Linked DNA regions of Homo sapiens: regions 1 and 3 are each linked to region 2. Evidence: fine-mapped expression QTL. A gene starts in region 2. Each other region holds a variant in brackets. All regions are shown on one strand. Distances are between the middles of the regions.

The links. PIP is the estimated chance that this variant, and not a neighbour inherited with it, causes the effect.
Region 1: its variant is the best candidate, but not a certain one, in a credible set for the expression of TMC5-AS1 in whole blood (INTERVAL, PIP 0.51).
Region 3: its variant is the best candidate, but not a certain one, in a credible set for the expression of TMC5-AS1 in whole blood (TOPMed, PIP 0.67).

Annotation. Positions count from the first base shown.
Region 1 is chr16:19,743,702-19,746,553 of GRCh38, forward strand. All of the region lies in intron 4 of IQCK (IQ motif containing K), which reads left to right. Among named protein-coding and RNA genes, the nearest start is that of IQCK-AS1, 21 kb to the right of the region's middle. The variant ATT/A (reference allele first, on the strand shown) is at 1,386.
Region 2 is chr16:19,486,186-19,489,037 of GRCh38, forward strand. It overlaps TMC5-AS1 (TMC5 antisense RNA 1), which reads right to left and starts at 1,716. Exons shown (of 3, transcript XR_007065016.1): 1 at 1,639-1,716; 2 at 744-1,135. It overlaps TMC5 (transmembrane channel like 5), which reads left to right. Exons shown (of 22, transcript NM_001261841.2): 16 at 760-835; 17 at 1,008-1,141. RefSeq lists an enhancer at 1,823-2,511.
Region 3 is chr16:19,566,393-19,568,892 of GRCh38, forward strand. The region is part of intron 2 of VPS35L (VPS35 endosomal protein sorting factor like); the gene reads left to right. Among named protein-coding and RNA genes, the nearest start is that of VPS35L, 12 kb to the left of the region's middle. The variant A/G (reference allele first, on the strand shown) is at 1,417.

The DNA of each region.
Region 1 (2,852 bases), 260 kb after region 2:
GAGTCTAAGAGTTTGACCACTGCTCCACTCTGATGGTCAGTCACACAGCTTGCTGAAAGCAGAGGTCAGATTCTGACATGAAAGATGGGTCTGGAGGCTGTGGAGAAAAGGAGTGAGAAGTTAGCAAGCCTTTTATTTAGGTTGTCCTGCCAGTACCATGAAACTCCAAGGAAGACCAGGGGGAACAGAGCAGACAGAGAAACAGCAAGAGCTGGCACCTAATTACTATGCCATAGAGCATTTGGCCAATTACACACACATCTATTGTGTGGTGTGTGGTGTGTGTGGGTGTGTGTATAGGTGTAGGTGTGTCTGCACACATGAATTCAGGCATTGTGTGGTACATGGTTCAGCAATTCCATGATTCCAGCCTCTGGAATCAGGCAGACCCTTTCAACCCAGGCCTGTTCCCCAAAAGCTATGCAAGCTTGATTATTTTGATTTTGAGTCACTCATCTTGTGATTCTTTTATATATATCATTTTAAATACTATGAATTTAATATAGTTTCTAAACAAACAGTTGTTCCTGCTTAGATTATTTTTTCTTCTTTTCTCTAAGCACACAAATAGTATATTTTTTCATTTTAAAAATTATTTTCATTTTTATTTTTAGAGATGGGGTCTCACTGTGTTGCCCAGGCTGGTCTCAAACTCCTGAGCTCAAGTGGTCCTCCTGCCTTGGTTTCCCAAAGTCCTGGGATTACAGGGATAAGCCAGTGCACCTGGCCCATCTTAGATATTTAACTCTATTTTAAATGCTCAATGTAAAATTCAGCATATTTAATAGGCAGGTATTTCCCTAATCCTTAATTTTTGGTGGAGATTACAATTGGGAGAATAAACCTTAAGCACATGATTTCCATGAATTATCTCAGCCTGAGAGTTAGATCAAGACCTCCACATTTCATGATACGAATTTAACAAGTGAAATAGATTTATTTAACCCTTTCTCAAAGGGTCATTTTCAATCATGTAAAAAAAGTAATTGAGATTTTTTAAGTGGCATCTGTATGGCATTAGAGTGACAATCTACAAATAAAGCCAATGGCCTTCTAGTTTTGCTGTGAAATTAGCTGGGTGCTAGCAGTATTTTATATTGTGTTAAACAAATATACTCTGTGAAAGGTAAATAACGGAAAATGATTGCTTTGTACAAATAGCTGGTGGAAGTACATCTGTGGCCAACAATAGATACTGTACAGACATTTCCTGTGTGTATAGCGATTTATGCAGCCATGTATACAACAAGCCAAAGGTAACAGAATGCAGATAATAGTATCTAAATTCGTTGGCCAATAAGTGAAGAATCACATGGAAGATGGGAAAGAGATGAAAGTTTTGACCCTTTGCTCTCCTATATTTAATATTCCAATATTTTGGGTAT[ATT/A]AAAAAATTTCAAAAGAAGCACGAGTTACCTTTGTAATCAGGAAAAATAAAAGTTAATGATAAGTAACATTTTCAAGTCCTCATATTTGACCCTGCTGCATCGTCTAGGTTATTTTCTTTCTCTCTTTCCTTTTCACTGACACACTCAGTGAATCACCTCACCTACATCTTTTTACCATTCATTCTTTCTTTAATGTGGCACTCTGGCATTTAAATGCTCACTATGTCTGGTACAACTCAAGTTTACTAATGACCCAGTACTGCCAAATTCTGTGACCTATTCCAGGGACAAAAAGGAGGCCAGTATGTTTGGGGCAGAGTGAGCAAAAGAGAGAGGAGGTGAGTTTGACAGGGTCAGCCCCGCAGCGGCCGTAACATCACATGGGCCAGTAAACAAAGTGGGTTTTATTTTAAAAGCAGTTGGAAGTAATTAGAGCCGTGACTCAACCCTACTGGGCCCAGTGCTCCCTTGTCATAGCATTGTATAGTGTGCTTCTTGCTATCCTGAAATGAAATGCTTAGATGATATAATATAACCTATTTATCAGTTACCTGATTGCTGTGTTGTACAGTAAACTACCTGAAAACTTCATGGCTTAAAATAACGATTTATTATTTTTCATGACTCTGGGCCGACTGGGCAGTTCTGGTGCTCTCTCCTGGGGTCACTCATGTGACTGCGTTCAGCTGGTAACTGGGCTGGGTTGGAAGGTCCAATTCTATCTCACTCATGTGTCTGGGGCCCTGGTGCTGCCTGCTAGCTGGGGCACTTCGGTTCTCCTTCATGTGGCCTCTCATCCTCCAGTGGGCCAGCCCAGCTCCTTTACAGCGTGGTGGTCTCCAGCAGCTTTCCAAGAGGGTAAAAGCAAAAGTGCAAAGCCAAGACCTGGAACATGACTTCCACCAAGTTCTCTACTAAAAATACTAAGAATTAGCTAGGCCTGGTGGCATGTGCCTGTAATCCCAGCTGCTCGGGAGGCTGAGGCATGAGAATCACTTGAACCCAGGAGGCAGGGTTGCAGTGAGCAGAGATCCAGCTTGGGGGACAGAGTGAGACTATGTCTCAAAAAAAAAAAAAAAAAAAAGAGTCTAGCTTCATTTCTTTTTTTTTTTCTTTTAATTTTTGTGGGTACGTCGTAGATATATATATTTATTGGGTGCATGAGATGTTTTGCTTCAGGCATGCAATGCGAAATATCATGGAGAATGGGGTTTCCATCCCCTAAGTAACTGTGTTACAAACAATCCAATTACATAGACTTTTTTACTTATTTTAAAATGTACACTTAAGTTTTTATTGACTGTAGTTACCCTGTTTTGCTATCAAATAGTAGGTCTTAGTTGTTGCCATTAACCATCCCCAACCTGACATTCATTCCTACTGTGTCTCATGGTGATAAGGCTGTGGGTGCTGAAAACATTTCCCATTGTGACTCTTAGAATTGCCGTCAGATCTAGTTTGTAA
Region 2 (2,852 bases):
AACAACATCAATTTCATATCTTACAGTTCTGGAGGCCAGAAGGCCAAGATCAAGGTGCGGGTGGGGTTGGTTTCTTCTGAGGGTCATAAGGGAGGGATCTGTCTCAAGCCTCTCTCCCTGGTTTATAGACGGCCATCTTCTCCCCATGTCTTTACATGGTCTTCATTTCTGTGTGTGTCTATGTCCTAATCTCTTCTTTTTTTGTTGTTGAGATGGAGTCTTGCTCTGTCACCCAGGCTGGAGTGCAATGGCACAATCTCGGCTCACTGCAACCTCCGCCTCCCAGGTTCAAGCGATTCTCCTGCCTCAGCCTCTCAAGTAGCTAAGATTACAAGCATACGCCATCATGCCTGGCTAATTTTTGTATTTTTTGTAGAGATGGGGTTTCACCATGTTGCCCAGGCTGGTCTTGAACTCCTGACCTCAGGTGATTCACCCCCTCTTGGCCTCCCAAAGTTCTGGGATTACAGGCATAAGCCACCGTTCCTGGCCTCCTAATCTCTTCTTTTAGGGACACCGGTTGTACTGGATTAGGGCCTCCTACAGTGATCTCATTCTACCTTAATCACCTCTCAAAGGCCCTGTCTCCAAATACAGTCACATTCTGAGATATTCGGGGTTAAGGCCTCAATATATGGATTTTGGGGACACACAATCCAGGCCACAATATCTTCTTTCTCTTCCCCCCAACCATCCCAGATTCACCCCGACTCCTTGTGTCTCCGCCAGCCTCTGACACTCACCCTCTCTCCCTCACAGGATTGGCATCTTCTTCTGCCCCCTGCTGCCCTTTATCCAAATGATTATGCTTTTCATCATGTTCTACTCCAAAAATGTGAGTCAGTCCGACATTGCCATCAATCAGCTTTGTTCAGTCACCTGTGACCTGGTGGCGCTTAAAGCTGGGGAAGGGGGCTCTGCAAAGGTGTCAGGAAGCCAGGCCTGGCTGGGGTCCCTCTGCCGCTGCTCCGGCTGCAGATGGGAGGTGGCTGCCTCTCTCTCTTCAGATCAGCCTGATGATGAATTTCCAGCCTCCGAGCAAAGCCTGGCGGGCCTCACAGATGATGACTTTCTTCATCTTCTTGCTCTTTTTCCCATCCTTCACCGGGGTCTTGTGCACCCTGGCCATCACCATCTGGAGGTAGGAGAAGGTGGCCTTGGGGGAGGTTTTAGAGACTGGGTGGATGGGTGTGTGTTTTAAAACGTAGGTTTTATTATAATTCAGGTGTGGTGAGGCCGGGTGCAGTGGCTCACGCCTGTGATCCCGGCACTATGGGAGGCCAAGGCGGGTGGATCACTTGAGGCCAGGAGTTCAGGACCAGCCTGGCCAACATGGTGAAACCCTGTCTCTACTAAAAATACAAAAATTAGCCAAGTGTGGTGGTGCATGCCTGTAATCCCAGCTGCTCTTGAGGCTGAGGCAGGAGAATCACTTGAACCCGGGAGGTGGAGGTTGCAGTGAGCCAAGATTGCACCATTGCGCTCCAGCCTGGGTGACAGAGTGAGACTCTGTCTCAATAAATAAATAAATAAATAAATAAATAAATAAATAAATAAATAAATAAATAAATAATGTAGGTATGGTGAAGCCCAACAGGTCAGGAATGACCATCACTAAAAAGATAGTTTATTACTCACAGTTCCTGAGAAGAGGGGGCACTCTATGCCACAAGGGACCACACAGGGAAGCATCAGGGTTGTTCAGGAGGCAGAGGGAGTGAGGGGAAACGGGCTAGAGGCTTTATTGTGGTTTTCTATGGTAAGGAATGGGCAAGGCAGGGGAAGCAGGTTTAGGGTTGGCTGGTTTGTCAGTAGGCTGTGGGATATGGATCCGCCCTGAGTTGTCTGGCACCTGGCCCTGGGGTGATTAGGGCAGGGGAGTGGTGGCCCAGAGTGTGAGAGCCTGATAAAGGGGGCGGTTGCGGGTGTGGGATCTGGATTGGTTGGTTTGCATTTGAAAGGTGTGCTTTGTAAGCTAGCCCAGGGAAGGGCAGCTAGCCCTGGGAGCTGGAGTCAGTAAGACCCCAGATGTCAAAACATCAGAATAAAAAGACATGCTTAATACAGTGCCTAACTCAAGTTCCCTGGCTAACCAACAGACACTAAAAGCCAGGGAGGGAATGCATCCTAGTTTGATCACCACCCATCCGATGCCCACGGTCAGGAGTAGCTTTCTCACTTCTGCCAAGAACTGAAGCTTCCCAGAATGGGGAGATGCCCCCCCACCCCGTTCCTCCACATCCAGAACAGAACTTCATCTAAATTAACAGAAAGGCAGGACTCATCTGGCTCCTCCCACCTCTCCAACCCCACTTCCCTTTGGCTCCACTGTTCCCCGCCCCACCACCCTCACCCCATTCCTGGAAGCCAGCAAGCCCCTCCCAACAAGGGCAGAGTCCTCTGAGTGAAGTCCTTTTCCCACTCCCTTTGCTTGGCTGCCTCCTCTCCACCCTCTGATTCTCAGCTCCAAGGCCCTCTCCAAGATCTGATCTTCACAGCCCTCCTTGTCTGCTCTCAGTTCCCCACTGCTTCTCTCTCTCAGACCTGAGTTTCTTTCCTTCATTCTATCATTCATAATCAGGAATGCCTCTGTGTGAGTCTTTAATTGTTACTCAACGATTGTCCGTTTTTCCCACCAGAATGTAATCCCAATAGGGCAGGAACTTGCTTAATATGAAGTCCCCAGAGCCTGACTAGAACAGTGCTTAACAGAATAAGCCATGGTTGAATGAACAATTGAATGAATTAATGAACAAGGGAGATGATTTTTAGGACACATGTGAAACTGGGGCTCTCAGTTCCTTGCTCCACAACACCCTTGCTCCTCTTGGCATATCCACTCTCTTCTCTCT
Region 3 (2,500 bases), 80 kb after region 2:
GACTAAGAGAGGAGAATCACTTAAACCCAGGAGGCAGAGGTTGCAGTGAGCTAAGATCACGCCACTGCCCTCCATCCTGGGCAACAGAGAGAAACTCCATCTCAAAAAAATAAAAGGAAAATTCTGAGCCAAATTAAATTTAATGGAGCTTAATTGAGCAAAGAATAATTCATGAATTGGGCAGCCTCCTGAGCCAGAGTAGGTTCAGAGAGGCTCCAGCACAGTCACGTGGTAGAAGATTTATGGACACAAAAAGGAAAGTGACATTCAGAAAATAGAAGTGAGGTACAGAAACAGCCGGATTGGTTACAGTTCAGTATTTGCCTTATTTGAACCCAATTTGAACAGTTGGCCCCCCCCTTTTTTTTCTTTTTTTTGAGACAGAGTTTCACTCTTGCCCAGGCTGGAGTGCAATGGCACAATCTCAACTCAGTGCAACCTCTACCTCCCGGGTTCAAGTGATTCTCCTGCTTCAGCCTCCTGAGTAGCTGGGACTACAGGCGCCCGCCACCATGCCCAGCTAATTTTTTTGTCTTTTTAGTAGAGACATGGTTTCACCATGTTGGCCAGGCTGGTCTCAAACTCCTGACCTCAGGTGATCCGCCTGCCTCAGCCTCCCAAAGTGCTGGGATTACAGGTATGAGCCACTGTGCCCGGCCCAGTTGGCCCCCTTTAATTGGCCAAAACTTGGTGATTGGCACAAGAGTAGGTTACACTCTGTTTACATGTCCAATGAGGTTATAGTTCACTATGTGCAGAGAAACCTTTAGGCCAAACTTAAAATAGGTAAGGAGACAGCTTTAGGCTAAACTTGATTTAACACCCATACCATAACAGAATAGCTGAGAAGAGCTGCTGCAGCTCCAGGCCTATCCTGTTAGGTTAGCAACATCAGCAGCAGGAAAATGCTTTTCTCAAGCAGTTTTCATTGACCCAGTTTTGTTATGCGCCCTACCCTGAACCAGCATTGGTGACCTGCTGTATAGAATAAGTTGATAGATTGGGGTAGGTCTAATGCTCACCTTGGGAACTGAGAACAGAGTTCACCCCACCAGGCCTGTAGGAACTGAGTGTGGGGGAGAGATGTTTTCTCAAATAAAAATTGGGGTATTAAGTATTAAGCCTGTGAGGTGGAGGAATGGGTGCCAGGCAGACAAAAACAGCAAATGTACCCCAATGGGAGGTGCTTCTCTCCCTCCCCTAGACTGCAGTTCAACTCCATTCAGGCAGCCATCGCCGGCAGTTGGCATCTGACTCGACAGGTTTGAGGGCAAGGTCCTCAGTGAGACAGCCCTGGCCCAGTATGGTAGCTCATGCCTGTACTCCCAGCACTTTGGGATGCTAGATGAGAAGATCCCTTGGGCCCAGGAGTTCGAGAACAGCCTTGGCAACATAGTGATACCCCACTTCTACAAA[A/G]AGTAAAAAAACAATTAGCAAAGTGTGATGGTGTGCTTGTAGTCCCAGCTACTCAGGAGACGGAGGCAGGAAGATTGCTTGTGCCCAGGATGTCGAGGGTACAGTGAACCGTGATCACACCATTGCACTCCAGGCTTAGTGACAAAGCGAGACCCTGTCTCCAAAAAAAAAAAAAAAAGACATCTTCACTTCAGAAACTCCAACTTCGCTACACATTGGGAGTTCCCATGCCTCCCTCCCTCATGTTCAATAATTTGCTATAGTGGCTCACAGAACTAGGGAAACATTTACTTATACTTACCAGTTTATTATTTAGTATTTACTTGTACTTAACAGTTTATTATTAAGGATATTACAAAGAATACAGATGAACAGCCAGATGAAGAGCTACGTAGGGTGAGGCCCAGGGGAAGGGGCACACAGAGCTTTCATGTCCCCTCCAGGTACCTCGATGTGTTCTTGTTCACCTACCTGGAAGCTCTTCAAACCGCCCCCCCCTTTTTTTTTTTTGAGACAGGGTCTCACTGTATCGCCCAGCTGGAGTGCAATGGCACATTCTCAGCTCACTGCAACCTCTGCCTCCCAAAACCCCATTTTTCATGTTTTTTTTTTTTTGAGGCATCGTTGCATAGGCATGATTGATTATTCATTCGGTCTCCAGCCCTCTCACCTTCCCGAAGGATGGGGAATGGGGCTGAAAGCTCCAATCTTCTAATCATGGCTTGGTCTTTCTGGTGACCAGACCCCATCCTGAAGCTCTGCAGGAGCCCATCGGGAGTCACCTTATTAGGACAAAAGATGCTCCTATCACCCAGGAAATCTCCTAGGGTATTAGGAGCTCTGTGGGAGGAACTGGGGGCAGAGACCACATAAATTTAACAGCTTGGAGTGCAGTGGTGCGATCTCGGCTCACTGCAACCTCCACCTCCTGGGCTCCAGCCATCCTCCCACTTCAGCCTTCTGAGTAGCTGGGACCACAGGCATGTACCACCACACCTGGATTATTTTCATATCTTTTGTAGAGATAGGACTTCACCATGTTGCCCAGGCTGGTCTCAAACTCCTGGCTTCAAGTGATCCTTCT